Linked DNA regions of Homo sapiens: region 2 is linked to region 1. Evidence: fine-mapped expression QTL. A gene starts in region 1. The other region holds a variant in brackets. All regions are shown on one strand. Distances are from middle to middle.

Region 1 (16,879 bases):
CACTCTTGTTGCCCAGGCTGGAGTGCAATGGCACAATCTTGGCTCACTGCAACCTCCACCTCCCGGGTTCAAGTGATTCTCCTGCCTCAGCCTCCCTAGTAGCTGGGATTACAGGCACCCGCCACCATACCCAGCTAATTTTTTGTATTTTTAGTAAAGACAGGGTTTCACCATGTTGGCCAGGCTGGTCTTGAACTCCCGACCTCAGGTGAACCACCCGCCTCGGCTTCCGAAAGTGCTGGATTACAGGCGTGAGCCACCATGCCTGGCCCCTAGAAGTCTTACGGTAGAGGAAAGAAGCCCAAGAAGGCAAAGGGTTAAGGAGCCGTAGAGTTAAGGGAAAGATCTTTTTTTAGGATGAGGAACACTCCAGAGTAAGATTGAGGAAAGGTTTGAAAAAAGATCTCTAAAGATATCATAGAAGGTGACGGGAGGTAATTAATAATAACAACTAACCATTACTACATTCGTGCCATGTGCTAAGCACGCTCTGTAGTGAGTAGTTTTCACTCACTGACTCATTTAATCCTTGCTATCATCCTGGAGGCAGGGACAATTGCTATTGTCTTCATTTGTCACAGGAGGAAATCAAGGTACAGACAGGCTTAGTAACTTGCTCAAGGTTACATAGCCGGTACTGTAAATTGCAGAGCCAGAAGTTCAAACTCAGGCAGTCTGGTTGCAGAGAATATGATCTTCACCATTAAGCTGTACTGACCAACTCTCTAAAATGGGTCTGAGAACTTTGTCCAAGAAGTGGTTCATTGCTTCCTTGGAGACAAGGCAGAGAAGATACTTATCAGTTTGGAGGCTGAGAATGTTTATACTTAATGGCCCCCACCTCTCCTTGTCCCATAAAATAGAACGTCTATTGAGAGAAAAAGATGAAGAAGCATGAAAGCTTAGAAGCCAAGACCTGGAAGAGCCACTGGGATTCTACTAGAATTAAATAAAAAGACTTCTGAGTAAAACACAGTCCTTTGACCTTAAAAAATATATAATACACTGAAGTAGATATGACAAGTGCCCAAATAACTATAATCTGGGGCAATATGTGTGAAGGGACATAATAGACATAGAATGTTAGTTGTACAAGGGTTCACCAAGGGAGACACTGTGTCAGGTTATGGGGTAGAAGGATCAAAAGAATCTCAAAGTATGTGAAATATTTGAAAGACAGAGTTTCAACAAGCAATCCAGGAGTCTTAATATTTTTCCAACAGACAGCTTACTAAGAGCAAGGTTCAATGAAAACATTGTTGATAGCGATTAGAGGAAACTGGAGTTGACGGGAATGTGGCGCAGAGGAGAAAGAGTCTCTGACCAAGGCAGGATGAGAGGGCAGGGGTTGAGGGCATTGAACCTCACTTTTCTAACTAAATAACAGTATCCACCTCCAAGATTATCCTTTTCCTCCTCCACCTCCTCTAGTTTCTCCTTGTTATTGAGTGCTTATCAAATGCCTGGCATTTTGCTAAGCTTTTTATTTTTTCTATCTATCTATCTATCTATCTATCTATCTATCTATCTATCTATCATCTATCTATATCATCTATCTATTATCGAGACAAAGTCTCGCTCTGTCGCCCAGTCTGGAATGCATTGTCATGATCCCCGCTCACTGCAACCTCCACCTTCCGGGTTCAAGCAATTCTCCTGCCTCAGCCTCCTGAGTAGCTGGGACTACAGGTGTGCACCACCACACCTGGCAAATTTTTATTTTTAGTAGAGATGGGGTTTCACCATGTTGGCCAGGCTGATCTCAAATTCCTGACCTCAGGTGATCCACCCGCCTTGGCCTCCCAAAGTGCTGGGATTACAGGTGTGAGCCACCACGCCCGGCCAACTCTTTATATATTGAATATATTTGATCCTCATCACAGATTTTGTGAAGATAACATCATCTCCATTTCACAGGTGACTTAGCTGAGGCTCTGAGAGGTTAAGTTACTTTCCTGAAGTCTCAGAGCTAGATGATGGTTAAGGCAGAATTCCACCAACATCTGTTTGATCCTAAATCCTTGCTTCTCATACTGCCTCTCATAATTGAGTAACAGCACCTGGCATATAGGAGATGTCCAATAAATTTATAATGGACATTAATAATAACTAATGGATATATGTCAAACAACATGTGGTGCTTGGGGTGGGTTATTAAAATGTTTAAAGTGGACAGAACGCTGTTCTGCACATGCACCCCAGAACTTAAAGTAAAATACAAATAATAATAAAATAATTTCAAAAGTGGACAGAAACCAAGGTACCCTTGCGGGATTGGCAGAAGAGGAAAAAACTCACTTTTTTCTCTCCTTTTTTAGTGACTACTTACTTATATTAAACTTACTATGTGTCAGGCACTGTTTTAAACACTTTATACAAATAAACCCTCTTAATATTCATTACAATCTCATTTACAGATGAGAAAACTGAGGTACAAAACATTTAACCTAACTGGCCCATGCACACAGCTAGTAAGTGGCAAAGCCAGGTGATCTGGCTCTGGAGCCCATGCTCTGAACCATGCTGTCTCTGTGAGGGTCAAATGGAGCCAAGCATGGAGGACCTTGTGCATCAAGCTAAGGAGAGCAGCTCTTCATAAGCCGGCGCTCGGCGAGTTCTCCCAGGAGAAGGCCATGTTCAGTTCGAGCGCCAAGATCGTGAAACCCAACGGCGAGAAGCCGGAGGAGTTCGAGTCCGGCATCTCCCAGGCTCTTCTGGAGCTGGAGATGAACTCAGAACTCAAGGCTCAGCTCAGAGAGCTGAATATTACGGCAGCCAAGGAAATTGAAGTTGGTGGTGGTCGGAAAGCTATCATAATACTTGTTCCCGTTACTCAACTGAAATCTTTCCAGAAAATCCAAATCCGGCTAGTAAGTGAATTGGAGAAAAAGTTCAGTGGGAAGCATGTCGTCTTTATCGCTCAGAGGAGAATTCTGCCTAAGCCAACTCGAAAAAGCTGTACAAAAAATAAGCAAAAGCGTCCCAGGAGCAGCACTGTGACAGCTGTGCACGATGCCATCCTTGAGGACTTGGTCTTCCCAAGTGAAATTGTGGGCAAGAAAATCCGCGTCAAACTAGATGGCAGCCGGCTCATAAAGGTTCATTTGGACAAAGCACAACAGAACAATGTGGAACACAAGGTTGAAACTTTTTCTGGTGTCTATAAGAAGCTCATGGGCAAGGATGTTAATTGTGAATTCCCAGAGTTTCAATAGTAAACAAAAATGACTAAATAAAAATATATATATTCATAGTAAAAACACACACACACACACACACACACACACACACTAAAACGCTAAGGAGAGCAATCCTTGTCCTTTTGCTTTCTCCAGTCTGAGGTCTCTTCTACACCTCTTACAGCAGTCATTCTTTTTTTTTTTTTTTTTTTTTTTATGAGATGGAGTTTTGCTCTTGTTTCTTGGGCTGGAGTGCAATGGCGCCATCTTGGCTCACCGCAACCTCTGCCTCCCGGGTTCAAGTCGTTCTCCTGCCTCAGCCTCCTGAGTAGCTGGAATTACAGGCATGCGCCACCATGCCCGGCTAATTTTGTATTTTTCGTAAAGATGGGGTTTCTCCATGTTGGTCAGGCTGGTCTCAAACTCCCAATCTCAAGTGATCCACCTGCCTCAGCCTCCCAAAGTGCTGGGATTACAGATGTGAGCCAACATGCCCGGCACAGCAGTCATTCTTTAAGACTTGCCCTCTCAGCTAATAGAGTCATTGTATCACCAATACCCTTTCATCTACATGAGATTATAAACTTTGTGAGAGTAAAAGATATCTGTCATTTTTGCATTTGTGTCCCAGCACTTGCCAGATACCTGGCATATGGTCAACACATAATAAATATTTATGGAATAAATGAAAGAAAGCTTCATCAAATCATTCATGCTTCAGGTATCAGATAGGACATATGTTCAAGGCCATTCATTTGGCTGTAAAGGAGTAAATGAGACTGGGTAATTTATTTTTGTTTATTTATATTTAGTGTTACTCTTTTTAATTTAACTTTTATTTTAAGTTCAGGGGGTACCTGTGCAGGTTTGTTACACAGGTAAACTCATGTCATGGGGCTTTGTTGTACAGATTATTTCATCACCCAGGTATTAAGCCCAGTACCCGTTAGTTACTTTTCCTGATCCTCTCCCTCCACCCACCCTCCACCTCTGATAGGCCCCAGTATGTGTTGTTCCTCTCTATGTGTCCATGTGTTCTCATCATTTAGCTCCCACTTGTAAGTAAGAACATGCAGTATTTATTTGGCTTTCTGTTCCTGCATTAGTTTGCAAATGATAATGGCCACCAACTCCATCCATGTTCCTGCAAAGGATATGATCTTGTTCTTTGTTATGGCTGCATAGTATTCCATGGTATATATGCACCACAGTTTATCTAGTCCACCACTGATGGGCATTTGGGTTGTTTCCATGTCTTTGCTATTGTGAATAGTGCTGCAATGAACATACATGTGCATGTGTCTTTATGATAGAATGATTATATTCTTTTGGGCATATACCCAGTAATGGGATTACTGAGTCAAATGGAAATTCTGTCTTTAGATCTTTGAGGAATCACCACACTGTCTTCCACGATGGTTGAACTAATTTACATTCCCACCAACAGTGTATAAACACTCCTTTTACTCTGCAACCTCGCCAGCATCTGTGTTTTTTTTGTTGTTGTTGTTGGCTTTGAGATGGAGTCTTGCTCTGTCACCCAGGCTATAGTGCAGTGGCATGATCTTGGCTCACCACAACCCCACCTCCCGGGTTCAAGCAATTCTCCTGCCTCAGCCTCCTGAGTAGCTGGGATTACAGGTGCCTGCCACCACACCTGGCTAATTTTTGTATTTTTTAGTAGAGACGGGGTTTCCCCATCTTGGCCAGGCTGGTCTCGAACTCCTGACCTCATGATCCACCCGCCTCGGCCTCCCAAAGTGCTGGGATTACAGGCATGAGCCACTGCACCCGGGCTTTTTGGTTTTTAATAATAGCCATTCTGACTGGTGTGAGATGGTATCTCATTGTAGTTTTCATTTCTCTAATGATCAGTGATGTTGAGCTTCCTTTCATATGTTTGTTGGCCGCATATATGTCTCCTTTTGAAAATTGTCTGTTCATGTCCTTTGCCCACTTTTTTTAACGAGGTTTTTTTTCTTGTAAATTTGTTTAAGTTCCTTATAGATGCTGAATAGTCGACCTTTGTGAGATACATAGTTTGCAAAAATTTCCTCCCATTCTGTAGGTAGACTGGGTAATTTATAAAGAAAAAACGTTTATTTGGCTCATAATTCTACTGGCTGGAAGATTGGGCATCTAGTGGCAGCCCCAGACTGTTTCCACTTACGGGGGAAGGCAAAGGAGAGCTGGCATCTACAGAGATCATGTGGTGAGCGAGGAAGTAACACCCAGCTCTCCTGGGAACTAACAGAGTGAGAACTCACTCACCACCCACTCCCAGGAAGGGCATTAATCTACTCATGAAGAATCCACCTCTATGATCCTAACACCTCCCATTAGGCCTCACCTCCAACCTTGGGGATCAGATTTCCATGTGAGATTTGGAGGGGTCAGATGAGCCAAACTACAGCAACATATAACAGAAATAGGAAAATGTTTGCCCTCATACATTGTTGTCTTAAGATGAATAGTATTCACAAAACAACTCAAACTCGGGCGAAGAGGGTCTTCACTGGGGATTCATATCATAACAACAAATTAAACAAACAGAAATATTATAAGACTCAATTTGCAGATTACCTAAGACAAAATCAATTTTATGTATTACATGTCTTTTGCTAATGTATATTAAGAATGTCCTCAAAACACTCTAGCATTATGGTTAACAATTACTCTCATGAGTCATTTGACTTGAAAATTGATCTTCAAATTGGAAAAGCCCTTAGCAGCAAATACCAGCAAAGACAGATTATAAAAATTTAAGGCTTAATGGGAGGGAGTTTGCTCTGAGTGGGAGTTAGGTACTGAGGAAGAGAACAGAGTTGAACACATGAACAGAGGAGCAGGCAGAAAACATTAAAACAATGCCTGTCACTGGGCGCGGTGGCTCACGCCTGTAATCCTAGCACTTTGGGAGGCCGAGGCGGGTGGATCACGAGGTCAGGAGATCGAGACCGTCCTGGCTAACACGGTGAAACCCCGTTTCTACTAAAAATACAAAAAATTAGCCAGGCGTGGTGGCGGGCACCTGTAGTCCCAGCTACTCGGGAGGCTGAGGCAGGAGAATGGCATGAACCCGGGAGGTGGAGCTTGCAGTGAGCCAACATCGCACGACTGCCCTCCAGCCTGGGCGACAGAGTGAGACTCCATCTCAAAAAAAAAAAAAAAAAAATCTCAGCTTCCCAATTTGCTAGCAATGTGGCCAAGGGAATATTCCTTAACTTCTCTGAAACAGCTTTCCTCTTTTTAAAATGATTACAATAGTACCTATCTTACAGGATTGTTGTATGGATTAATGGAGATAACATAGGGAAAGCATTTAGAAGAGTGCTTGGTACATAGAAAGTAGTCAACATAAGTTCTCATTCTTGTTATTGCTATAATTATTGGCATTATTCATAGGAGCTATTAACTGCCACTGTATTTGATGTTTGAGGAATGATGTCCTCCCTCACTCCCAGCCATTCCAGTTTCTTTTCACTAATGCAAAGTAGGAGAGGTCCTTGATTTTCATATATATTATCCTCATGCAACCTTTGCTTTTCCATGTTACATATAGGCATCCTAAGCTGTTTTTATGGTACATTGTCCTTCATGCTGAGCTACTTAGTGATGATTTTGAGCTAATCTGCAATGGGGATAAAGATTGGGCTTTGGCTTGAGTCAGCGTCTATTCTTAACACATCTAGGTTAATGCTGAGGTTAAGCCTCAGCTTCTCTTCCTGACATTGGCCGTCTATGGGAGGTTTCCCCAAACCCCTGCATAGCCAGGGACTGGAACTTATTCATTCATCTTTTTTTTTTTTTTTTTTAGACGGAGTCTTGCTCTGTCTCCCAGGCTGGAGTGCAGTGGCACGATCTCAGCTAACTGCAAGCTCCGCCTCCCGGATTCACACCATTCTCCTGCCTCAGCCTCCCGAGTAGCTGGGACTACAGGCGCCTGCCACCAAGCACGGCTAATTTTTTGTATATTTAGTAGAGACAGGGTTTCACCGTGTTAGCCAAGATGGTCTCGATCTCCTGACCTCGTGATCCGCCCGCCTCGGCCTCCCAAAGTGCTAGGATTACAGGCGTGAGCCACCGCGCCCGGCTCATTCATCATTATTCATTACAAAAATTTGTGTGCCAAGTCTGCCACGGTACTGGGTGTTGTCTGCATATCACAGGAATCACTGTCCGGGGCAGGTGTTTCTGGGCCTTCCCGGGTTTTCCACCTATTGCCACTCTGCGCGGAGAGAAGCAGATATCGAGGAACTTGTCAGCATGAGAAAGTTCATGGGGAGACGGGGAAGAAGAGCCATCATGACATGAAGGAGCAGTCAGCTCAGCCCCTATTTGGCTTATACCATGAAAACTGGCAAAAAGAAAAAGCCCTTTTCCCCACCTCTGGTGGAGGAACCCAGCACAGGTGATCTCAAAGGCTTAAACACTGGAGGCTTCCCAGCTCTCTGCTGCAGCTTCTTTCAAGCCTGAGAAACAGGGGGCTGGCTGGCTACTTCAAACTGTTGATTGCCTCCCACTAGAGGCCTCTGGAAACCTGTAAAGTTTCTTACCTGCCCTTCCAGGTTGCCTGGGTTCAAAGAGGCAATTTTATAAGAGAGACTATAATTAGGGGTTTTATGGTTTGTTTTGTTTTGTTTTGTTTTGCTCTCTGGGAACAGAATCCTCCTCCCCTATAACATGCCATATTTGTTGAGTATTCACTTTGTGTCAGGCACTGTGCTAGGCATTTTTTATTTTGTTTAATGATCACAACCCATAAGACTGGTATTATTTATTCTTTGCAAGAAATGAGAAAAGTAATTTCCCCACATTTATTTACACAGCTAGCAAGACATAAAGCTGTGACTGAATAAGCCTAATGACTGAAATGTCTGTGGAATGTAAAAGAAAAGGTGAAATGAAGATCTACAGAGGAGGTGGAGATGCAAAACGGGAGTGGGACATGGGGTATTTATTAAGCAATTGAAGATCAGGTTGAAGTATTGGTTTTCTGAATAGTTCCTACCCACAGTTATTGTGTAAAAGGAGGCATTAAGAAAGGTCTTGTATCTCCATACAAAATAAGACAATGGGGTCCGCAGAAAAAGAAGGGAGGGGTGGTTTTGTTTGGGGGAAAAAGAGCATTTTAAAAGAAGTTGTGTGTGTGTGTGTCTATATGTGTGTGTGTATGTGTGTGTGTGTGTGTGGTGAAAAGTGACACTGAATAATAGAGTGTGAACCCACAGTGCTCGCTCACATTCACAGGTACCAATTACCAGAAAATACCAACAACCATGGAGCCATAGGGATGCCATTTATGGATAAAAGCTATTTATGAGAATGAGAAGACTCAGAGTGGGATTATTCCTCTTGTTAGTTTCCTCTGGGAAGTAAATTAGATGTTTCAGGAGATGTATTCAATCTTTTTAGAACTCTACATTACATTTACTGCAATGCCAATAATAATGTGCTGCTCTTGGCTTCCAAAGGAGGCTTTCTCAACTTCAGAATCTAAGCCCTCCTCTGTGCAAGGTGCTGTGCTGGGACTGTGAGGCACACAAAGGCTCAGATCACACTCTCCTTGTGTTGAAGGAATTTGCAAGCCAGTTAGGGTAACAACACATCACATATATAGATACATGTGCAAAATGCAGTCTAGTGTATAGGTGCCAGGTAGGAATATAGTCAGTCAATTATATATAGGAACTGGGGGTGAGGGAGGAGTTATATCTACCTTCAGTTAGATATCCATTTATCCATTCATTCATTCATGAATTCATGCATTCATTCATCTATTCAATACATACGCATGGAACATCACTATGACCTTCCATATCCCAAACACTTTTTTTTTTTTTGAGATGGAATTTTGCCATTGTTGCCCAGGCTGGAGTGCAATGGCGTGATCTCAGCTCACTGCAACCTCCGCCTCCCAGGTTCAAGTGATTCTCCCGCCTCAGCCTCCCGATTACAGGCATGCCTCACCACGCCCGGCTAATTTGTATTTTTAGTAGAGACAGGGTTTCTCCATGTTGGTCAGGCTGGTCTCGAACTCCTGACCTCAGGTAATCCGCCCACCTCAGCCTCCCAAAGTGCTGGGATTACAGGCGTGAGCCACCATGCCCGGCATATCCCAAACACTTTGAATAAAATGATGAATAAATCAGAATACCTAATATAAAGTCTAGTGGAATGGAGTTGAAATGATCAGTTTTTATTGACAGAGTTGGATTTGCCCTTGGATCATTTCAGTCTCTGGGATAATCTACCTAATGACAATGACTCAAAACAAACATTTCCTTGGCAGCTGGAAGTTTTTAGAACAGATGTTTCTATGTTAAAAACCACTGAGTATTGTCAAAGTTCAATTCTAGATGTTGTCCTTATTAACACACTTGTCAAGTAAAGTTAACCACCTAGACTTCTCCTAACATATGCTTCAAACAGTAATCACAATATGATAAAAATTTTAGAGCTGAGCAATAATCAGTCATCAGTTTTACTAGTTTTACTAGTTTTTAAACACAAAATTATTGATTTCCCTTAGTTTCCTAAATATAATAATAAATATTCATATCTTACAAGAATACCATGAAATAGTACTATTATTCCCATTTTACGGAAGGGAAAACTCTTCTGTAAAGAGTGAAGGTTTTACAGAAGCCTCAGAGTTGGTCTGTGAAGCCTCAGAGGTGGTAAGTAACTGCATAATGGCCTATAATCACATGAAACAAGGGGCAGATGGGATCTGGGTTCCAAACCAGATCCAGCTGACTCTAACTGTCATGTTCTTTTCTATTCACCTGTGTTGTCCGCTTGGGAAATAAAGATTCACAGTCACTTTTAATGTTTAAAAAGATGTGATAGAAATTCAATTTTTTTAAAGCAGCCCATGGTGATGAATACTACAGGTGTCTACATCCCACCAAGTTGGGCATTATTGGTAATCTCATGACAGAAGTACTGATTAGCAATTAGAAATATCCCTTTTTAATTAAAATAACTATTTAATAAGTGCTCTTTTAAAGCAGGGGATCATCTTGGTGGAGAACCAGCAACTCATTTACAGATGAGAAAACTGAAACCTAAGGAGTTAGGCTAGTTACTCTGCAGAGATGCATTTCAGAGCAGAGGGGGTGGGGTGTATTGTAGCAGCTCATTAAAAACTAAGTCAAGGAGTTCACTAATCTGAATAAATCACTTCTACCACTCCAGACATTTTTTATGGATCCAGTTTATATTTGAAGTGGACGGGGGCCAGGCGTGGTAGCTCACACCTGTAATCCCAGCACTTTGGGAGCAGAGGTGGGTGGATCACCTGAGGTCAGGAGTTCAAGACCAGCCTAGCCAACATGGCGAAACCCCATTTCTACTAAAAATACAAAAATTAGCTAGATGTGGTGGTGGGCACCTGTAATCCCAGCTACACAGGAGGCTGAGGCAGGAGAATTGCTTGAGCTCAGGAGGCAGAGGTTGCAGTGAGCCAAGATCGTGTCACTGCACTGCAGACTGGGCGACAGAATGAGACTCTGTCTCAAAAACAAACAAACAAATAAATAAACAAAAAACCCACCATTTTTTCTCTACCCTCTTATGCATAGTGCTTGGGGGTCTGTGGACTAAACTGACAAAAGACAGATTAGCAAGGCAAAAGACAAATTTTTGTTCACATATATCAAATGTATGTGGGCATTCATAACCACTCAAGGAGGCAGTTGTTAATAGAATTTGGAGCTTATATTCTATCTTAATAGGAGAAGAAGTGTATTTATGAGAAAACAAATGACTTTTAGGAAAGATAAATGGGCCCTTAGGAGTGCTGGGCTCAGAACATGATACCCCAAGGTATCTGAGTACTTTGAACTGAAGGACATTGGAAGGACAACAATTCTGTCTACTTCATCCTTTCTGATAGTACCTGGTGTTTGCCAAAGTAGAGGTAATTAATTACTATTCAGTGAATAACATTTGGACTGGGGGGGGGTTCCTCTGGGGCAGGTGCAAGTACTTTGACATCTTGGTATCCTTGAGTGCTTAAGAAAGAAAGCCTGGAACATGTTAAAGGCTCAATAAGTGACTTGGATAAAGAGTTGAATGAGAGAATAGATAAACAGCAACCACAGTCATGCATTGCTTAATGATGGGAATACCTTCTGAGAATGTGTTGTTAGGTGATTTGTCATTGTGCAAATGTCATAGAGGGCACTTACATAAACCTAGGTAGCATAGCCTACTACAGACCTAGGCTACACCGTGTAGCTGATTGCTCCTAGACTACAAACCTGTCTGGCATGTTACTGTACTGAACACTGTAGACAACTGTAATGCAATAGTAAGCACTCTGTGTATCTAAACATATCTATAGAAAAGGTGTTGTAAGAATATGGTATTATAACCTTATAGGACTACTGTCACACACACGGTCTGTTGTTGACTGAAACATCCTTATGTGACACATAATGATGTGTATATCCTCAGAACTGTTAAGAACTATTAGATGTTGAAGAGATGGAGTTTTGTATGCATAAAGTTTGGTGCTTGTCCTTGACAAGTCTCTGTTCTATTTGGAGATTAGAAATGAATGCTTCTATTAAGTGTAACCTGCATGACATCTTTTATAAGGGCAATGAAAATTCAGGAACAGAGTAGAGGAGGAGAGAGGACTGGGAAAAATAGTCTCTTGGCATGAAGAGGGTGTGTAAGGATGGGAGGGACAAGAAACAAGATGTGTGGGTGGTGGTGGTAGAAACTGCACGTTTGGGGAGCAGGGTGGGGTATTTACCAAACCAAGGGTCTATTGAGTAAGGTGAGTTGTACTGGCCAAGCGGCCAGTTTATGAAACATGGAAAAACCAGGCCCAGAAATTTAGGCTTGATAGAGCAGGAAATCTCTATCGGGAGCCCCGCCCCTCTTTTTATGGAAGTTAAGTATAAATATAAATATATGATTTCTCACAAAGAGACAACAAACATTGTAACTTAATATAGGTACCCTCTAAACCAACTAAGATCTCTTTAGACCTTTGAAATACAAACTGTGGGCTTGCTTTCACATTCACTTATTCATTCCACAAAAGATTATGGGGCACCTACTAGAGCTAGCATTTTGTTAGGCACCATGGGGGGTACAAAGAACAAAAAAAACTTGGTCCCTATTCCCCAGGAGTTTACAGCTCAGTGGTGGAGACAAACGTGTACACAAATCCTTACAATAGGAGGTAAAAATGTAAATACAGGATTGTAGGGGCTCAGTTCCCAGAGATACTGCATGGAGGTGGTGTGGAAAATTAGAAAGATTTTTTAACACTAGTTGGTTTTGGATCAGGTTTAACATTGATGGAGTAGAACATGTTCTCTTTAAGGCAATAACCAGGGTTAAGGCTGTGGAAGCACATGTGCTGGAGTAACGAACAGTGGTCTGATTTGGCTGGAGAGCAAGTTTCCTCAAGGGGCGCCGTGGGGAATTTAGCTGGGTATGTGCCCAATAACCGAGGCTGGGAATCTGGTAGAAAGAAGTCGAGCTGAGACTTTATTCCGCATCTCTGTGTTTTGACTTAGGCATCTATTGGGTCCTTTTAAAAAAAATTCTCCTCCTCTTTCCTAAAGAGAGTTCTAGCAGTTGGGGGTGGGGTGGGGACCATTTCCTAAAGTCAACGCGTAAGTTAAAGGTCTGCAAGGCGGTCCACCGGTGATTTAAATCTCGCACTTCGGAAACCAGAAAAGGAAACCTGTGAGAAGCTGGGCAGGGGGAACCCGCTTAACATCAACAGCAACCCCTAAATGGCATCAGACCTTGGAGAGACAGGTTGCAGGCCAGACTCGGGAGCCAGGCGCCAGCACCCGCCAGAGCTCTGAGCCCCGAACTGGTGGGCAAGGGGTAGAGGAAGAGAGGGAGGGAGGGAGGGAGGAAGCGCGAGAGGGAGGGAGGAAGAAAGGGAGGGAGGCGGCGTCATGTGATCCGCTTCCCTGCTCCTTTAAGCGTCCACAGGCGGCGGAGCGGCCACAATCACAGCTCCGGGCATTGGGGGAACCCGAGCCGGCTGCGCCGGGGGAATCCGTGCGGGCGCCTTCCGTCCCGGTCCCATCCTCGCCGCGCTCCAGCACCTCTGAAGTTTTGCAGCGCCCAGAAAGGAGGCGAGGAAGGAGGGAGTGTGTGAGAGGAGGGAGCAAAAAGCTCACCCTAAAACATTTATTTCAAGGAGAAAAGAAAAAGGGGGGGCGCAAAAATGGCTGGGGCAATTATAGAAAACATGAGCACCAAGAAGCTGTGCATTGTTGGTGGGATTCTGCTCGTGTTCCAAATCATCGCCTTTCTGGTGGGAGGCTTGATTGGTAAGTGCGGAGAGCTGCAAACTTTTCCCCCTTTCTGTCTTTTCGGGCCCCTTCCCTCTTTGCCTCTTGGGCTACTTGTTACAGTATCACTGCCTTGCTTCTATGATCTAATTAGTCCGGCTATTGTGCTTAAGAAAGCAGAGCTCCATGGGGCTCCGTGGGGCACAATCCAGTCTAGTGGCTAAGAGAAAAGGAGGGGAAAAAGTTTTGGCCTAGTTTCAGTATCCACTTGAAAGGCAAGAGGGGGGCGGCGGGGGTGGGAATCTTAAGCATGGCGACGGATCGCGCGAGGAAGCGCTGGGTTACAAAGTTGATTGCTCGCCCCCCCCCCCCCCCGCTTTTTCCCGCGTTCCCCCCCTTTTCCTCTCGGTTCCCTTCCAATCAGCTCCGGGAGGGCAACGTAATCGACTTTATTAGGAACAACAGAAGAGTCGGGGAACTGTGCCCGGCGCAAACCCGGAGCTCTGTTACAAGGCTGAGATACTTGCACGGTTGTAAATGCATTTGGTCGTCTTTGCTAGGGGCTGAGGGTTTGCAATTTGGGGTCCCGACCTTCGCGCCCTCTGCTTTCCCGCCGCACTCCACCCCACGCTCTGCCGTGGACAGGTCCGAATTGTCGGCCGGGAGGTTGGGTGGGATGGGGTGGGGTGGGAGGGAGTCCTTGACCAGCGCCGCGGGAAGTTGGAGAGGTCGGAGGGGAAAAGCGTATCCGAAAGGTGTTGCTTTTGGCCTCCTGCCCACTCGTGAATATCCCTTCCCCCACTACTTAGAGCCCCGAGAGCCGGTGACTGTGAATGTCCCCGTCCTCTTTTGGCGCTTAGGAGAGCGCCCTCAGCTCCCACCACAGCCCCCCGCAGGTGACAGCTCGCCGGCCTCCTCGGCGACAGCGCCCGCCCCGGGAGACCTCCCCTGGCGTGCACCTCCCGGACCTCTCTGAGTCAAACAGGCTTCCGGGTGAAGAAAACCGCCTCACGGACCGTCCACTCGGAAAAACTCCCTTCCCCTCACTGTCTCCCCATCTGCATCCATCCTCCCGCCTCTCTGCACACTCGCGCCCCCCGCCCCCTCAAGATTTGGGACATCCCGGCACAAACTTCAATGCCAACTTTGCAGCGGGCGCGGACGGGAGGTTCGGTTTCCTTACTTCACGGCTTTGTTAAACTTTGCGGAGTGGGGAGTCCACGGAGGGGCTTTCTCCGCGCGTGCCTTTACGGGCGCCCACGCGATGTGGGGTGCGGGGAAAACGCCCGGGGGCGCCGGCGGCGTCGCTGCCAGAGCTGCACAGGCTTGGGCACCTCCAGTCGTGTGCTTGGCGTTTTGTCTCCAGACTTGGGTTTGATGGGAACAAATTAAAGGGAGTTTGGTACTGTAAATCACGGTAACATCCAAGCCAATTGTCTTAAACAAAGGAGAGTGGGTGAAGCTTCATCAAGGAGAGAAATACCTAAAGGAGACAGTGCTCTTTTCTCTGTGTGCATTTATCCACAAAACAGAAAAGGGTTCAGAGTTTTCAAACAATCTCTTATCCCCAGTGTGGGCCAAACAGCTTCACATTTTCTTTCTGGAACCCTCACCCTCAACACACACACACACACACACACACACGCGCGCACACACACACACGGGTTGGCTTTTGTGTTAGGAGCTTCTGTTTGGCTACATGCAATCTCGTTTCCCCGTATTGGATTTTTCGAGGCTCTTAATACCTTCTCTGCTGGGAGCTGAAGGCAGCCTTCCCTGTGCCCTCACAGTGATTATGCAGCGGTTACAATTACACCTCTTGTCTCCCTTGATGAGCAGTTGCAGTTAGATGCCATTGGATCTTGTGTGATTTCAGTGGCAGACCATAATTAAAATTTCTTGCACCTTGTGCTTTCAGAATTAAATTGGCCTATTATCCCTGTCTGACCTTCATCCTCTTTGAGGTTTTTGCACAAGCAGCAAACCATTACACATAGTTTCCTGGTGTTTGTTGGTGTGTTTCTTTTTCTAGGCTGATCTCCTAGCTTTGCAGACAGAGCCCATTATCCAAGAAGTAGGCTTCCTAGGGCACTTCTGAAACTAGTAGGATTTCTGGGATGCTACCACCAAGGAGAAGCCCTAAGGGCACTCGTGAGTGGCTGGTGGACATTGGAGCGACTATAGGGTCAGAACACTTGTCTGTTCCAAACAGGGTTTGTCTGGAGTAAGTGGTGCCAAAGATTGTTTTTCCCGAAGAATTTGGTTAATGACGACAACCTCAAAAAGTCCGCGGCAGGTGCTAACTGTAACTAGCTTCCCCTCAATTAATAAACTGCTTTATTCCAATTTCCTTGAAAAATATCTATGTATAACACTTCTTGGAGGAAACTGTATAAGTTTACTGCTTACCTCTCCTTCCTCAATTGCAAAGGCTGTGTCTCCAATTCAGATCAGATCTAGCCCATGTTGAACAGTGACTTAGCCTTTCCTCTTTCACTTAAACAGTAATTTTTTTTTGCTCTTAAATCTAAAATTTGGGTAGGACCCAAATATGGGAAATAAATATCAACAAAATGTAAGTGAAAAATTTTCCCACCAAACTTCCCTAAGCTGGAAAACAAAGGAAACTAAGGAAAGAATAGCAACAAAGTGGGCAAGCGGAGACAGTAGTTGAAGGAACAGTTTGTAGGCTGGAAGTCAAGGTAAAGTTCAGAAACCTCCTCTGCTCTCTCGAGTGAGAAGAGAACTCCTCCGCTGCTCATTGTTATTGCCACTTAAAAAGTCAGTTGTCCTGGGTGTGAAGTGTCTCTCTAATATATCTGCAGTAGGCCAAGTGAGAAAAAGAAATGTCCCCTTTGAACTGGCCAGAATATATTTTTCTTTTTGATCACTCTTTTTGCTGATGAAAGTAAACTTAGGAAGAGCAACTTAGGAAGGGGAGAATATAAATGGCAAAGCTCTTGTTTGTAAGGGTGTGAGTACTGCATACACCACACACACAAATATACAGCACAAAAACAACCACCCCACCAAACAATAACAATCCGTGAACCCCAGAGTGACCAGGCAAGTGAGTTAACTAGCAGGCTTCAGGCTCCTCATTGGTAGAGGAAGGAGTTTAAGGTCCCTTTCGGTTCTAAAATTGTGTAACTCTTTCAGTACTTAGAGAATTGTACATGACATTTAGGCTGTTGTTTCGTTGTAGCCTTCTAGATTTGATGGAGAAAATTTAAACATTCACTATAAAAGCAACTAGCCTCCAGGAATTGGCTTTGGTTTAGCCAGCTTAAATATTCTCCTATTTCAACATCCTTCTTACCAAAAAAAAAAAAAAACAAAAAAAAACACATTTTTTTGCTTGCTTTTTTTTTTTTTTTTTTTTTTTTTTTTGGCACCAGTGTCTGTAAGCTAAACCTTTAATGG
Region 2 (16,879 bases), 36 kb before region 1:
GGAGTGCAATGGCACGATCTCAGCTTACTGCAAGCTCCACCTCCCAGGTTCATGCCATTCTCCTGCCTCAGCCTCCCAAGTAGCTGTGTCTACAGGTACCCGCCACCACACCTGGCTAATTTTTTTTTTTTTTTTTGTATTTTTAGTCGAGACAGGGTTTCTCTGTGGTCTCGATCTCCTTACCTTGTGATCTGCCTGCCTCAGCCTCCCAAAGTGCTGGGATTACAGGCGTGAGCCACCGTGCCCAGCCAGCTGTTCCCACTTCTTATAACCTAAGCATTAAAAATGAACAGCTTTCCTTTTCTCTTTTGGTCTTCATTCTGAAGTCTCCTGTGTCATGTAAAATTAGAATTAAATTATTTTATTTTATTTATTATTATTATTATTATTATTGAGACAAAGTCTCACTCTGTCACCAGGCTGGAGTACAGTGGCGTGATCTCGGTTCACTGCAACCTCTGCCTCCCAGGTTCAAGTGATTCTCCTGCCTCAGCCTCTTGAGTAGCTGGAACTACATGCACTGTGCCACCATGCCCGGCTAATTTTTTGTATTTTTAGTAGAGATGGGGTTTCACCGTGTTAGCCAGGCTGGTCTTGAACTTCTGACCTCAGGTGATCCACCCGCCTCGGCCTCCCAAAGTGCTGGGCCACCGCGCCTGGCCAGGATTAAATAATTTTATTATGCTTTTCTCTTGTTAACCTTTCATTATAAGGGTGACAGCTTATGATGTGGAGGAAAGAGATCACCCTCTTTCTTTCCCTACAATGATGATAATGATGACGATGATAATGACTGGACAAAGAAGGAGCTATAAACGTAATGGTTGCTTTTTTGGATTTCTAAATGCCAGGGAGTCAAAAGAGCCCTGTCAAAACATCCTGCTTCATATAAGGTAAGAGATATTCCTGGCATAATGTTCACAAAGTATTAAGTATTACTTATTAGTAATAAGTATTCAGACATTTTTGCCTTTCTCTGTATTAAGGGGGTCTAAAATATTTTATTGTAGCATAAAAGTTGTTTTGAGTTAAAAACATTTGAGAATGTGCTTTTTTTCCTTCATTATCTGCCTAAGAGCACAGCCTCCTATTAGAAGTCAAGATAACAAAACTGTCATTGTAAATCCCCTCTTTGGTAGCAACGAGGGAAGACTGACTCTCTTATCAGCTTCCTACCCAAACAAACAGACATTGTCACAAAACTATGGTGTCTCCCATCTACCCTCCTGTAGAAGAGGAAAGGTGTAATAACTTTTCTTACCCATCATAAGGATCATGGCCAACACTCCTATAACAAAAGGCAAGAGAACAAGAGAAAAGCATGACAAATGTATTTAACCAAAGTTTTATGTGACATGGGAGCCTTGAGAAATAAAGAGCCAAAGACCCAGGGAAAATTGTCTGTTTTTATGCTTAGGTTTGATGAAGAACTGACAGCCATATAGAAATGTGATTAGACAAAAAGGTATGATCTAATGCTAACAGACTGACAGGAGAAACCCAGCCAGGCCTGCCTTTCTGTTCAGATTCTTCTCGGCCTCCCTATGTAACATTCCTTCCTCCTGGGTATGAGGCTGGACTCCTCTGGAATGAGATTCTTCAAGACAGAAGGAGAAGAGTGGACTTCCTAGGTTTTATGGCATGCTTGGAGGAAGAGGAGTTCTGGTTTCTATGACCCACCTTGGGGAAGAGGAGTTCTGGTTTCTATGACTCATTTACTTAGGCGAAGAAAAAGAGACAGGAGATAGGAGGGTAGGAAGAGGTCAGAGAAACCCTGTTTCTGAGGTCCTTCCAATGTCCTTCAGTTCAAAGTACTCAGCATGCCAAGGTGCCATACTTTGGGGTATCAGATTCTGAGCCCCAACACTCCTAAGGGCCCATTTATCTTTCCTAAAAAACATTTGTTTTCCTGTAAGTACCCTTCTTCTCCTGTTAAGATAGTATACACGCTCCAAATTCTATTAACAACTGCCTCCTTGAGTGGTTATGAATGCCAACATACATTTGATATATGTGAACAAAAATCTGTCTTTTGCCTTGCTAATCTGTCTTTTGTCAGTTTAATATGCAGACCCTCAAGCACTAACCATAAGAGGGTAGAGAAAAAGCTTTTTTCTCTCCAACAGCATCATCTCCTTCTGGGAAAATAAGACTCACCCTTCAAGACCCAGCTCAATGCTGCATTTTTCCTTCAATAGGAAGTGTTCTGTCCTTCTTCCAACCTTCTAAGAAATTTGCTGATATCTCTTTTAGAGCATTTCTCTCATATATCTTACAATAATGTACCATTTGTTTCCTCTGTCATATTCATATATATATATATATATATATATATATATATATATATTTAAACAAAGTCTTGTTCTGTTGCCAGGCTGGAATGCCGTGGCATGATCTTGGCTAGCTGCAACCTCCGACTCCCTGGTTCAAGCGATTCTCCCGCCTCAGTCTCCCGAGTAGCTGGGATTACAAGCACACGCCACCATGCCCAACTAATTTTTTGTATTTTTAGTAGAGATGGAGTTTCACCATGTTGGCCAGGATGGTCTCGATCTCCTGACCTTGTGATCCACCCACCTCGGCCTCCCAAAGTGCTGGGATTACAGATGTGAGCCACCGCTCCCGGCCTACTTTTTTCTTTCTTTTTTTTTTTTTTTGAGACAGAGTCTCATTCTGTCGCTCAGGCTGGAGTGCAGTGGTAAAATCTTGGCTCACTGCAACCTCTGCCTCCTGAGCTCAAGCAATTCTCCTGCCTCAGCCTCTGAGTAGCTGGGATTACCGGCACCCACCACCATGCCTGGCTAATTTTTGTATTTTTAGTAGAGACAGGGTTTCACCACGTTGGCCAGGCTGGTCTTGAACTCCTGACCTCAAATGATCTTCCCTCTTTGGCCTCTCAAAGTGCTAAGATTACAGGCGTGAGCCACCGTGCCTAGCCTAATATACATGTTTTAAAGACAAAGACTGGTTCTATCCCACGTTTGGGCTTCCAGTACTTTGTATATCTAATAGACACTTGGTAAATATTCAGTGAAAGAATATGGCCTGGAAGGAAGAAATGAAATATGTCTGTTGGCCTCAGCATCAGGAATCTGAATAGTTCCTAAGCCGGTGGCAGTCACTTCTTAGCTATTAGCTTTGGCCAAGTCCCTTTTCATTCTCAGCCTCAGCTTCCTCATTTGCAAAATGAGAATAATAGCACCTCTGTGGAAACTTTCATTTTCATGGTGATTAGATGAGCCATCTCACTTAAACATCTAGCAGAATGTTTGGGACATCAAAGACACTCCATAAAGTTAGTTCCTCTCTGCTTCCTTCACACCTAACAGGGGTCTGTACTTTGAGGAAACTCAGTGGTCTTCACATCTTCATCCTATCTGAATATCACTTCCAGGAGCCTGCCTCCCTTTCTCCTGCCCAGGTTAAAATTGCCCCAAATAAGAACAACATAGGTGGGACAAATCCCTTCCAGAGCCGTAGAGAGCCAAAAAGCCAGGACTTCTGGAAGCTCCCCTGGTGTTCTAGGCATACTGTTAGATCAACTTGTCAGCTCACTGTTACCTGTGTCAGCTGAGAGAGGGAGGTTAGAATGGTGGTGGTGGTGGTGGTGGAGGGGGCTTAGCTGATAGAATTGAGCTTAGAAGATGAATGGGGATGGGTGAAGTGGCCACATAAGATGGCTAGGCCAAGAGAAAGGAGGGCTTTGGTAATGAGAACAATGTCTTTATATGTGTGTTTCTCTGGGAATATATATAAATCTGTGTGATTTTGTTCTCCGTGTGAATCTGTATGTCTCTGCTTATGTGTACAGGAGAATCACCTAAGAGAAATCCATCCATCTATCCATCCATCCATACATCCATCCATCCATCCATCCATCCATTCATCCATCCATCTATCCATGCTTCCACTCATGTATTCATTCAGTCAGTCATCCGTTCATTTTATTTAAATTAAAAGAGATTTCCAACCATCTATTCATCCATCCATTTATTCATTCAGTCAGTCATCTTTTCATTTCATTCAAATTAAAAGAGCTTTTTAAAATGCTTCAGGTACTAGAGAAAAAAAGTTAAATAAAATATCCTCTACCTGCAAGGAGTCTGACTATAATCTGTTTGCAGTTTGTTGGAAACAGACAAGTAAGTATTTTACAAATACTGTTCTAAGATAGAGGCTAGCACAAGATGCTAGGAAACAGACCAAGGAAAGAACCCTGGAAAAAGAAGTACTAAGTTGGGCTTTTTGGTTTTGTTTTTTTTCTTCTTTGCAGGTTCCAAAAATACATTTAGCTCCATATATTCCCCATCCCACCTCCTTCCACCCCAGAGTTTGTTTAAGGAGATTTTTTTCTTTTGACTTGTGCTAAAAACCCAGTGCCGCAGCATTTCCTCTCTGGTATAGAGGCCATCCTTCTCCACCAATTTCAATAAAATAAAATCAAAGTAACTTTTAGTTATATCACTTCCCCTTGTTTGTTGTGGGAAATTATGAACTCTTTGAGGCACCAGCACAGTTTCTTAGAATATAGAAAAGGCTCAATAAACATTTCCCGAATAGTGGGCAAGTGAATGAAAGAATGAAGTTCTCTACCTGTGCAAGTCTTATGTGTCACATGGAGACCCCTCCTCTGGATTCTCAGGGTCATGAGAGCAGCCTGACACTGGGTCTGGCCATCCAGAAGCACTTAAAAAGTGATAGATAATAGTGTAATTAGTTACTACCATCTATAATTACTATTTAGTGGGTGGTTCCAAAATATTTAACATATTTATTTTTACTTTTAGAGTAAATGGGTTGGGGGGTGGGGCGGGCAATGGAGAGAGAGAACACTTTCAGGCCATGATGAAAACCATGTGAGGCACTCCACAGCTGTTTTTCAGACCTCTGCAGGAGCACCATGCATTGCCTCCTTCTCTCAGCCAAATTCCAAGATCTAAGGGTTACCCCCCAGGAGGGAACATGCCATTCCCAGCAGAGTCCATTATCTCTTGCAACCTGTTATCTAAACAGATTGTCTCCTTGGCTCCATTAGATGAGCAGATAAGCATACCTGAAGCTCCTGGGGCGCTCTGCCATTTACATAAGATCCCAGTGCCTTGGGCCACTGCCTAGTGCCTAAGGAACCCAAAGGTTGTCTCTCTCAGAACTCAAGACTTTCACTCCTTTGCCTCCTAGGCATTTGCCAGTCACAGAATTCTCCACTACCAGGCCTCTTGGCAAACCAAGTGTCCAGACCAGTCTGATTCCCCAGGTTTAATCCTAAACCAGTAGCTTGCGTCTTCCTTTGCTGAGACCTACTTTGAAAGCCAAAAGGACTGAGTTGTCTGCAAATAATTCCAATGCCACCATGAGATTTGGGGTTTATTTTATTTTATTAGAAACAGGCTTTTGTTATGTCATCCAAGCTGACATGGAACTCCTGGGCTCAAGTGATCCTCCCACATCAGCCTCCTGAGTAGCTGGAACTACAGGTGCATGTCATCACACCTCGCTTTTAGGATTTGTTTTTAATAGAAGTGAGTTATCCATTAGCATTTGTGAGACATATCTGGAACGTCACCTCAAGTATGAAGACTGACTTAACTCACTCCAGCTACCTGGATTTTCATTTTGAAAAACTAATGTCTAGGCCTGGAGCTACAGTTTTGCTCCCAGTTCAAAAATGTCTGGCATATAATAGGTGCATAAGAAATGTTGTTCCAATTAATGGAGAAAATGTCAGTTTGGCCTTCATCTGAATGAAACATTTACCTTGTTTGGGTAGAGAGTTATGAATCTGGAGATGGCTGGTCCCTCAGTCTACCCGTTCAGAAAGAACATCACTCAGTAAATCATACCAGGCAGTCAGTCGGCACTTTCAAAAACTGTGCTTCATTATGGTAGGACTGGGAGTATAGAAGGAACAAAGGGAGTGTGTGTGTGTGTGTGTGTGTGTGTGTAAATATATATATATATAACTTGCATAATTTTAAATTTTATACAATAAAGATAGAGCATACATATGACAAAATACTAACATGAATGAACCCTTCATGTTATGGAAATATATACTACGTCTGTTCTTTTCTATATTCTGTATTTTTTGTTGTTGTTCATAAGAGACAGGGTCTTGCTCTGTCACCAACTAGAGTGCAGTGGTGTGATTATATCTCACTATAACCTCGAACCCCTGGACTCAAGGGATTCCTTGAGGCTGGGATCACCTTAGCGTCCCCAGATGCTGGAATTACAGGAGTGAGCTGCCGCCCCAACCATATATTCTATTTCTAGCTACTCTATATTTCTATTTCTGAAAATTGTCAATTTTTTTTTTTTTTGTCATTGTTGTTGTTGTTGTTTAAGATGGAATCTCACTCTGTCGCCCAGGCTGGAGTGCATTGGTGCGATCTTGGCTCACTGTAGCCTCCACCTCCCAGGTTCAAGTGATTCTTCTGCCTCAGCCTCCTGAGTAGCTGGAAATACAGATGTGCACCACCATGCCCAGCTAATCTTTGTATTTCTTTAGTAGAATCGGGGTTTCACCATGTTGGCCAGGCTCAAACTCCTGACCTCAAGTGATCCTACCACCTGGGCCTCCCAAAGTGCTGAGATTACAATCATGAGCCCCCGCACCCTGCCCAAAGTTTTTTGTTTTTTTTTTTTAACTATGTTGCAAGGATTTGATCACCTAGAGAATGTGGATTAAAGGGAACCAGAGCTCTTTCACAAAGGCAGAATGTCTTCTGCTCCTATCTTTTTGAAAATGTACACTTAGTCCTACATCCCTCACAACAACATGAAGTGTTCAATATTACACTAGTCATTTTGCAGATGAAAAAAAATGAGGCATTGAGACATTAATTAACCAGCTCAAGATGATACAGATCTATCTGACTGAACTGGGCTTCAAAACAAGCAGCCTGTCTTCAGAACTCTCCCCTTTAATCATTGTCATAATGAACCAGAACCATCTGTAACAGAGAATGGAGCAGCAAGAATAGCTATCTTCTGCCTCTTTTCTGGAGCCAAAAACTGATCTGGAGAACTTCACACTCTTTCTAAGGCCATGTTATCTCAACCTTTTTCCCCGCTTTTATCCCTACTCTCTGCCTATTAAGTAGACTTTTTAGATCTTTTCTGATCATTCCCTCCCCACGAAATTTTAATACCACATATATGCCTTATATCTGTTTACGTATGATGAGGGGCCACAAAACATTTTTATATTTAAGATTTTTTTTAACCTTCCTAATAACCAACTTTCACCTCCGTGGCGGCAACATTGTCCCCCATTAAGAATGTGTGTTCTGAGGAAACCAATATTGAAGATTTCTGTAAGATCTTTTATGTTGCCATTGTTTATCCATATGTCACAAATACATGGTGTGAAACAAAAATCTCCCACATAGACTCCCACAGGAAATACAGTAATGGGAGAATTTCGGTTCTTTCTCCCTGGCTTCCGAGGTTGTGTCTCAGGAGCAACTGCTGGGGTGTTCATGAGGGGATGGAGAGTGAGTAACACCACAGTAATTGCCTCAGAGCTGGAGACTCCTGTTGTCCTTATTATACAGAGCCAGTTTCCAATTACATGTGCTAATGAGGTCCAGCAGTAAGATGGGTAATTGCAATCCACAAGAACTCCCAAACCTCATTTAGAAAGCTGTTTCAAGCATCTCTTGAGCCTGTGAACCAGACTAGGATAACTATTCCTCTTCTTCTTGAACCTGTAAGAACCAGACTGGGATGACTGTTGATTTTCCATTGTTTCCAGCCTCAAACAGAGAAGGAATAACGATCGGGCCTTGTTCACCTTGCATGTTTTTACTCAGGGCATTCCGTGAACCAAGCACTTTGTTGACCCCATTCACAGAGATGTCTAGTATGTACCCATAGGCTGCATATGTGGTAGGTATCGTCCTTTCTATTTTGAAGATGTGAAACTGACTGATGCAAAGTGTTACCAGTAGGAAGTAGCACAGTCAGGGTTCAAAATCTGGTGGTTCTAATTCCAGGTACATTCCTTCATGGTATCTTCAAAGCCTTATGAAAAAACTGGAAAGACCTGGAAAATGTTCAATTCAATTGAATTCAGTGCAATTTGAATTGTTAATCAATTTAAATGTTCATCATTTGAGCTTTAAAGGTAGGCAAACTGGTTTTTTTTCTTTCTAACTATATGTCCATAAGAAATTTCCTTAATGGCCCTTGCATGTTATTCAAAATTCTAATTAGTAAAACTGTATCGTCATGAAGATTAAATGAGGTAATGTTATCAAGCACCTACTATATCATCTGCATCAAAATATCCTGTTTCCTACTCCATTCATCGGTTTGGTCCTTGTATCATTTTGTATCATTTCTTTGTTTTTTCCCCTTGTGGCCTTATTGTTTCCTGACATTTTAAAATATCTATCTGGCCTTCAGAGCTGAATTGTAAGAACTTCAGGATCAGGAGCTGTTCTCATAAAGATGGTTCTCAAATTTCGAAATTTTTATCTTTTTTTTTTTTTTTTTTTTTTGAGATGGAGTCTCGCTCTATTGCCCAGGCTGGAGTGCAGTGGCACAATATCGATTCACTGCAACCTCTGCCTCCTGAGTTCAAATGATTCTCCTGCCTCAGCCTCCTGAGTAGCTGGGATTGCAGGCACCCACCACCACATCCAACTAAGTTTTGTAATTTTAGTAGAGACGGGGTTTCACCATGTTGGTCAGGCTGGTCTAGAACTCCTGACCTCGTGATTCGCCTGCCTCGGCCTCCCAAAGTGCTAGGATTACAGGCGTGAGCCACTGTGCCCTGCTTCAAATTTGTATTTTTTTAATGTGTGAAATCTTATACATTGCACATTGACACTCAAAGTACTAAATTAATATCAGCTTCCACACATCACCCAATGAGCATGAATTTGAACTCTCAACTAGTGGTGCCTTCGGCCAGGATTCCTAGGTTCAATTCGGATGGCATCATTATCTTTATGCAGCAATTTTTGCTTGTTCTATTATTTGAATAGCTAATCGCATTTGCCCTTCTAATATGTGAAAAGCCATAACAAAAAAGTGATTGTGACATAATAAAAGATATCCCCTAAATGGCAGATCTACATCTCAAATAGATTATTATTGGACTTAAGCTGATATTTGTGTTCAACTGTGAAGAGTAAGAATAAAATTAAGGGCCATGCATGAAGCATTGGAAGTCTGTCTTTTCAGGGTCAGCCTAAGAGGAGAGGAGTAGTGGTGGGGACATGAAGAACACTTTAGAATTTTAATTGTGAATCTGCATAAAAATCATTGACAGAGAAGTTCAAGGGTTTAAAGAGACATAGCCAAGGGTAAAGCTCACACAGATTTCTCAATTAAGTAGAGATTGGCAGAGTTGAATTTTTCTTTAACAAAAATATTTTTAAAAACTAATACCGGCAGGGCGCAGTGGCTCACGCCTCTAATCCCAGCTCTTTGGGAGGCTGAGGCGAGCGGATCACAAGGTCAGGAGTTCGAGACCAGCCTGGCCAATATGGTGAAACCCCATCTCTACTAAAAAAATACAAAAAACTAGCCGGGCGTGGTGGCGGGCGCCTGTAGTCCCAGCTACTCGGGAGGCTGAGGCAGGAGAATGGCGTGAACCCGGGAGTCCGATCTTGCAGTGAGCCGAGATCGCACCACTGCACTCCAGCCTGGGAGACAGAGCGAGACTCCGTCTCAAAAAACAAACAAACAAACAAACAAACAAAAAAACCATGAAATCATTTCATAATACCATGAAATCATCACTATAAGTTCCTGCTCAATCTCTGCACAACAACATTAGCAAATTCTTCTTCCCACAGTAAAATGATTTGGTTGTTTTGTTTACTAAATGTCACTTTTAGGAAGTAAGTTCTGCAAGGGCAGGAATATCTGTTTTGTTCAGAGATGTGTTCTAAGCACACAGATCAGCACCT[G/T]GCATGGAGTAATCGCTGAATAAGTATTTACTGAATGGAATTCAAGTAAACTGAAGTTTAAATAAGATATTACTTTGTAAAATTATCTGTTATACATCTGATGAGAGGTTAATATTCAAAATATATAAGAAACTCAAACAACTCAATAGTAAGAAAACAATCTAATACAAAAATGGGTAGATGGTTTGAATAGGTATTTCTCAAAATAAGACACATAAGTGGCCAACAGGTATATGAAAAAGATGTTCAGGATCACTAATCAACAGAGAAATGCAAATTAAGACCATAGTGAGAGATATCACCTCGCAGCTATCAGAATGGCTATTATTGCAAAGATGAAAGATAACATGTTGGCAAGGATGTGGAAAAAAGGCAACCCTTATACACTGTTTGTGGAAATGTAAATTAGAACATCCATTATGAAAAAAAAATATGGAGGTTCCTCAAAAAATTGAAAATAGAACCCATGATATGATTCAGCAATCTCACTACTGGGTATATATCTGAAGGAAATGAAATCAGTATGTGCAATAGAAGAGACAGCTGCACTTCCACATTCATTGAAGCACTATTCACAACAGCCAAGATATGGAATCAACCCAAGTGTCCAGCAATGAATGAATGAATAAAGAAAATGTGGTATATGTACACAATGGAATACTATTTGGTCTTTAAAAGGAAGGAAATTGTGTCATTTGTGACAACATGAATGAGCCTGAAAGACATTATGTTAAGTGAAATAAGCCAGGCACAGAAAGATACATACCACATGATCTCACATGTGGAATCTAAAGAAGTTGGACTCAGAGAAGTAGAGAGTAGAATGGTGGTTACCAGGGGCTAGAGAGTGTAGGGGGCTTAGGAAAATGTTGATCAAAAGACGCAAAATTTCAGTTAGGTAAGTTCAAATTAGTTAAAATAAGTTCAACAGCTCTATTGTACAACATGGTGACTATACCTAATTAAAAAGGTATGTAACTATTTGCTGCCGGGTGTGGTGGCTCACGCCTGTAAACCCAACACTTTGGGAGGCTGAGTCAGGCAGATCATGAGGTCAGGAGTTCAAGACCAGCCTGGCTAACATAGTGAAACTCCATCTCTACTAAAAGTACAAAAAATTAGCCGAGTGTGGTGACAGGTGCCTGTAATCCCAGCTACTCAGGAGGCTGAGGCAGGAGAAATGCTTGAACCTGGGAGGTGGAGGTTGCAGTGAGCCGAGATAGTGCCACTGCACTCCAGCCTGGGTGACAGAGCAAGACTCTGTCTCAAAAAAAAAAAAATTATTTGCTATATTCAATTTTTTTCTCTGTTTAATAATTATGTGATCCTTCTATAACCTAGGAGTTTAAGAAAATCTAAAATAGATAATATGATTAGGATTTTATTATTTAGCTCTCACAGGTTCAGAAAAGCTGAGTACCAAGTTAGGCTCTGTCATGCGTTAGGCATGTAACCTTGATCAAGTCACTAAACCTCCCTGAGCCTGATTTAAGATAGATAAATAGTAACATATTTATGTAACAAACCACATATTTATCTTTGTATCTGTACTGCAGAATTAGGACAGTTTATAAGAATACCTACAATAAACTAAAGTAAATAAATTGCATACAGAAATATGTAAATACATATAAGTTCCAAGAAAAATACAGGTTGAGTGGGAAAACAAGACTAAGTAAAAGGGCTCCGTTTCTTTTTCAGTTCTTAAGATACAACCTTAGAGATTAATGTGAGAATCAAATGATTTAATAGGATGCTGTTTGATAAAGAGTTCATTGACCATGATGCACAGAGAGGCTGTATAAAGAGAAACAAGCCCAGCCATACCTCACATTCCAGCCACCCCCATTGGAGCCCCAGACGTGTGAGTGAAGTCACCATAGACTCTCCAGCCCAGGTGAGTCACCCTGTCCAGCACCACACAGCAGGGATAAGCTGCCACCACCATGCTCTGCCCAAATTGGAGAATTATGGGCAAAAATATGGCTGTTTTAAACCACTACCTTTTGGGTTAGCTTTTTATACAGTAATAGATAAACAGTTTGGTTTCATTTCTTGGTCTCAATAGCAGCAACTTTCGTCTCCTGTCTGGAGCAACTCCCTCTTTATTTCACCAATTATCACTCCACTATCTGTCCTTTTGCATCCATGGATTTTGAAGGAAGGTCAGTGGTATTGTGTGGAAAAGGCTTTGGCCTTTGACTGATACCTCCAAAAAAATTATCATGTGTGAATACTAAACAAAAATAATATTTAAAGCTGCAAATTGTTTGGCAATACAAAAATAGAAATCTGAGCCTTCTATTGACCAAAAATCAGAAATTGGATGTCACAGTGGCTTGTTTGCATTAGGCCAGAAGGAAGAAAAATGATATTAGTCATTCCCAGTGAGCAACAGTGAGAGATTGGCACGTGCACATGAAATGCAATCTCGCTTCCCATAGAAAGTGATTAAAAAGATTAACACACACACAAACACACCTTTTGTATTCCCAATTTTAATATATTGTACAACAAATACGTTAATATCAAGGAAAAGAAAGTAAGCCACAAGCTTTTCACCAAAATGTAACTACAGTCATGTATTGCTTAATGATGGGGATACCGTCTGAGAAATGCATCCTTGGGCAATTTTGCTGTTATTCAAACATCATAGAGGGAACTTACACAGAACTAGATGGTATAGCCTGCTAACACCTCAGGTATAAGGTATAGTCTATTGCTCCTAGGTTATGAACCTGTACAGCATGTTAGTATATTGAATACTGCAGGCAATTGTAACACAATGGTAAATGTTTGTGTATCTAAACATAGGAAAACTGTAAAATAGGAAAATACAGTAAAAATAAAATATCATATAACACACCTATATAAGGCATTTATTATGAATGAAACTTGCAGGACTGGAAGTTGCCGTGGGTAAGTTGGTGAGTGAGTAGTGAATAAATGTGAAAGTCTAGGACATTTCTGTACACTATTGTATACTTTACAAACGCTACACTTAGACTACACTAAATTTGTTTTAAAATATTTTTCTTTCATTAATAATAAATTAACCTTGGCTCACTGTAACTTATCTACTTTATAAATTCAATTTTTTTAACATTGTGACTCTTCTGTAATAACATATCTTAAAACATACATTTTGCAGCTGTTCACAAATATTTTATTTTTTTATCTTTATTCTGTAAGCTTTTTTTCTACTTTTATCATTTTTTTTTAACTTTTTTACATTTTAGTTAAAAACTAAGCACAAAAACACACATTACCTAGGCCTACATAGGGGCAGGATCATCAATATCACTATCTTCCACCACTGCATCCTGTCCCACTAAAAGGTCTTCAGGGTCAATAATACACCTGGAGCTCTCATCTGTGATAATAGTGCCTTCTTTTGGAGTACCTCCTAAAGGCCTGCCTAAGACCATCTTTCAGTTAACTTTTTATTTTTATAAATAGAAGGAGTACACTCTAATATAATGATAAAAATATAGTACAGTAAATACGTAAACCAGTAAGTTTATTATTATTATCAAAGTATTATATACCGCACATCATTGTATGTGCTGCACATAATCATATGTGCTCTACAACTGGCAGCACAATAGGTTTGTTTGCAACCAGCATCACCACACACGTGTGAGTAATGTGTTTTGCTCCAATGTTATGATGCCTACAATGTCACTAGGCGAATAGGAATTTTTTAGCTCCATTTTAATTTTATGGAACCACCATCCTATAGGCAGTCTGTCATTGACCAAAATGACATTATGCAGTGCAAGACTGTATTTTTATCTTGCCAAGTTCCTTTTCGATCCCTTTCCAAGTGCATTAACTGTGAATCCTTATTTTTAGCTGATTAATTATCTAACTCCTCTTTCACAGGCACAAGAACCAATGTGAACCCAAAGCAATGAGGAAGGAAGGCAGGAAAGGGAAAATAAGGGAGTGTTCCTTGTTGCCCTGGAGGCTTGGAGGAAAGCTGCTTAATTCTCAATTTATTTTTCTCCATTTATTCAGTCAATAAATGTTACTACAAAATTTTTAAGTACTTTTCATTTCTTAAAATTCTTCAGCTGTGTAATTACTTGTTCATTGATCTTCTGCCCAGTTAGACTGTAAGCTATGCGTGAGGCCAGAGGCCAGATCTGTTTTTTCTCGTTTTTTTTTTTTTTTTTTGGTTGCAGTGTTGCAGTGAGCCAAGATCATGCCCAGGCTGGAGTGCAGTGGTGCAGTCTCGGTTCACTGCAACCTCCACCTCCCGGGTTCAAGCAATTCCTGTGCTTCAGCCCCCCAAGTAGCTGGGATTACAGGCATGCGTCACCACACCCAGCTAATTTTTGTATTTTTAGTAGAGATGGGTTTCACTATGTTGGCCAGGCTGGTCTCGAACTCCTGACCTCAGGTGATCCGCCTGCCTCAGCCTCCCAAAGTGCTGGGATTACAGGAGTGAACCACCATGACTGGCCTCAGATCTGTTTTTTCTTAATCACTACTGTATATCTAGCGTCTAACCTAATGCCTAGCACAATGCCTTAAGAGGCATTTAGTAAATGTTTGTTGGTTTGAAGTATGGGAATTGCAAGTCCAGAGGACACATTTACCAAACTAGGAATGGAAAGGAAGAAGTAAGGAGAAAATGGTTGTTAAATAGTGGGTGAGAGTCTATACATTAAAAGGAGAGCGTGCATGCTCTAATGTACTTTATAATAAATGTGGTCTATTTGATTAATGCTGCCAGCTCAAATTTGGGTCTTCTGGAAAAAAAAAATGATGAAACCATCTCCGGAGACATTTTGTATTCAGTTCATTTAATATTTATACTGAGTTTCTTAAGTCAGCATCCTCAAGGAGACCAAAAATGATGGTTGGAATATGGAGAGTAATGCTCAGGAGGATGGGGTAAGAGCACTCCCCACTCACCCAGTCCTAGATAAATCAACATAGCCTGAGTTAAATTTAGGTACTTCTCTAAAGGGTGGAGGGACTACTCCAGAATAGTCCAAAAGGAAATAACATTCTTTCTCATCTCTTTCTCCACAAGACTCTAGCAGAGCTTTAAAAAGTAGGTTTCTTATTACAAGGAATAAAAACTATATAAATTAGAATAGAGATCAAAAAGAGACCCCAAAATTCAATGATTTAGTAAGATAGAATTTCACTGTGCTTTCCCATAACAGTCTATAGGTGGGCAGACCAGGCTAGTAGATAGCTCTGCTCAACAAAATAATTAATAGACCTAGATTCCTTCCATTTTGTTGTTCCATTATACCCTATTAAGGCAGTATTTCTCAAATGTTAACATGAATTTAAATCACTGGTGGATCATGCTAAAATGCAGATTCTCATTAGCAGGCCTGGAATGGGGCCTGAGATTCTGTATTTCTAAAAAGCTTCCGGGTGATGTTAATGCTGTTAGTCCAAGGCGCACACTCTAAGTAGCAAGGTGTCAGGGCATTGTCATCATCTTAATGGTCAAGGCTGGGTGACTGGCATATCTGTTCTCCAGTTTTCAGTAAGGGGTTAGAAAACAAGTCTAGGGCAAGAAGTTGTCACTAAGTAAACTATGTAGAAATAATATACACATCTTCTTTTCATATTCAATAGTCAAGGACTTAGTAAGATGGCCACACTTGGCTTCAAAGGGACTGACGAATGTCTTTAGTCTCTAGCTGGGCAGCCATATTACCATCTAGAAGGGAATTGACATTACCATACACAAGGAGAAAACTGATATATTGGGAAACAGTCAGCAGTTCGCACCATGAAAAATAAGGAGCCAGGAGCTTATATAATTAAGCAATAGAAATGAAATGTAACACCAAGAAGTAGATGTATGGGCCAGATATTGCACTGAAACCTATGAAAACAGCTTTGGCAAAAAGCTATTGGATCAGAAGTCAAGGATCATTGATAGCATTCCATTTTTAATTTTCAATCTCTGGCATGCTTTGCTTGCACATCCTCTGTGACTTGTTCGTAAGAGTTGCTGATGATAGGAGAGGTAGCAGCAAATGACTCTGAGACTATTTTAGTGACACTGAGTGGACTCTGACATGTGCTTATGGTTAGAAAAAACAAATATAAACAAAAATCAAGAACATAGCTAAGATTTCATTAAAGACATTAGGTCAAATACTAAAATAATCCAAGCATGAATTAGGAGCTTCTGGATGTGTTAATATATAACATGAATTTATATATCCCTATGGCCAACAGTTTACCCAGAACACATTTCAAAACTTACCTGCTTCTAACAGCATCAGAAACAAAATTTATTGTTCAGCCCCTTGGATATGACACATTTTCTTAGAATATTCAGTTGCATAATAAATTTTAGAAGCTTCCAGCAAAGAAAATTTCATAACTTTTTCTGTCATACCCACATCAATTCAACATGTAAGTATCCTCTGCCTTACACAAGATCTCTTTTGCATCTAATCTCATTAGAGTGACCGTCTGAAACACTTCTGAGCCTGAAAGGGGCATTATTAACAATTATGCTGGGTATAAATCCAGCATATAAATCCAGTTGTGTAACCTATGACTGTCCTGGGTAGCCCAGGATGTATAACTCCAAGTCTAGGTTGTACCTATCGTATTTTCTTTTCATCTTTTTTCCTCAATTATTAGGTAGAAGTAGCAGACATTAATGTATTTGTGAGTAAGTTTCTTTAAGATTGCAATGAATAGCCACGTGTGGAGGCCCACCCCTGTAATCTCAGCACTTTTCATTTCTTAACATTCCTTAAGTGAGGTGGGAGGATTGCTTGAGCCTAGGAGTTCAAGACCAGCCTGGGCAACACAGTGAGACCTTGTCATTCCAAAAAGTAAAAAAATTAGTCGAATATGGTGGTGCATGCCTGTGGTCCCAGCCACTCGAGAAGCTGAGGTGGGAGGATCACTGGAGCCCAGGAGGTCGATGCTACAGTGAGCTGTGATCACACCACTATGCT

Alleles and levels. Positions count from the first base shown, and alleles are read on the strand shown. Sizes are in standard deviations (SD) of each study's normalised expression.
For the expression in whole blood of the gene that starts at base 13,166 in region 1, allele G in region 2 goes with a lower level than allele T (small effect, 0.37 SD a copy in GTEx).

What was found. PIP is the estimated chance that this variant, and not a neighbour inherited with it, causes the effect.
Region 2: its variant is fine-mapped to the expression of WLS in whole blood (GTEx, PIP above 0.99).

Annotation. Positions count from the first base shown.
Region 1 is chr1:68,228,810-68,245,688 of GRCh38, reverse strand. WLS (Wnt ligand secretion mediator) reads left to right here and starts at 13,166. Exons shown (of 12, transcript NM_024911.7): 1 at 13,166-13,495. The coding sequence starts at 13,390. It also overlaps the pseudogene RPS7P4.
Region 2 is chr1:68,264,745-68,281,623 of GRCh38, reverse strand. No RefSeq gene overlaps it. Among named protein-coding and RNA genes, the nearest start is that of WLS, 41 kb to the right of the region's middle. RefSeq lists enhancers at 2,990-3,574, 4,656-5,283. The variant G/T (reference allele first, on the strand shown) is at 9,924.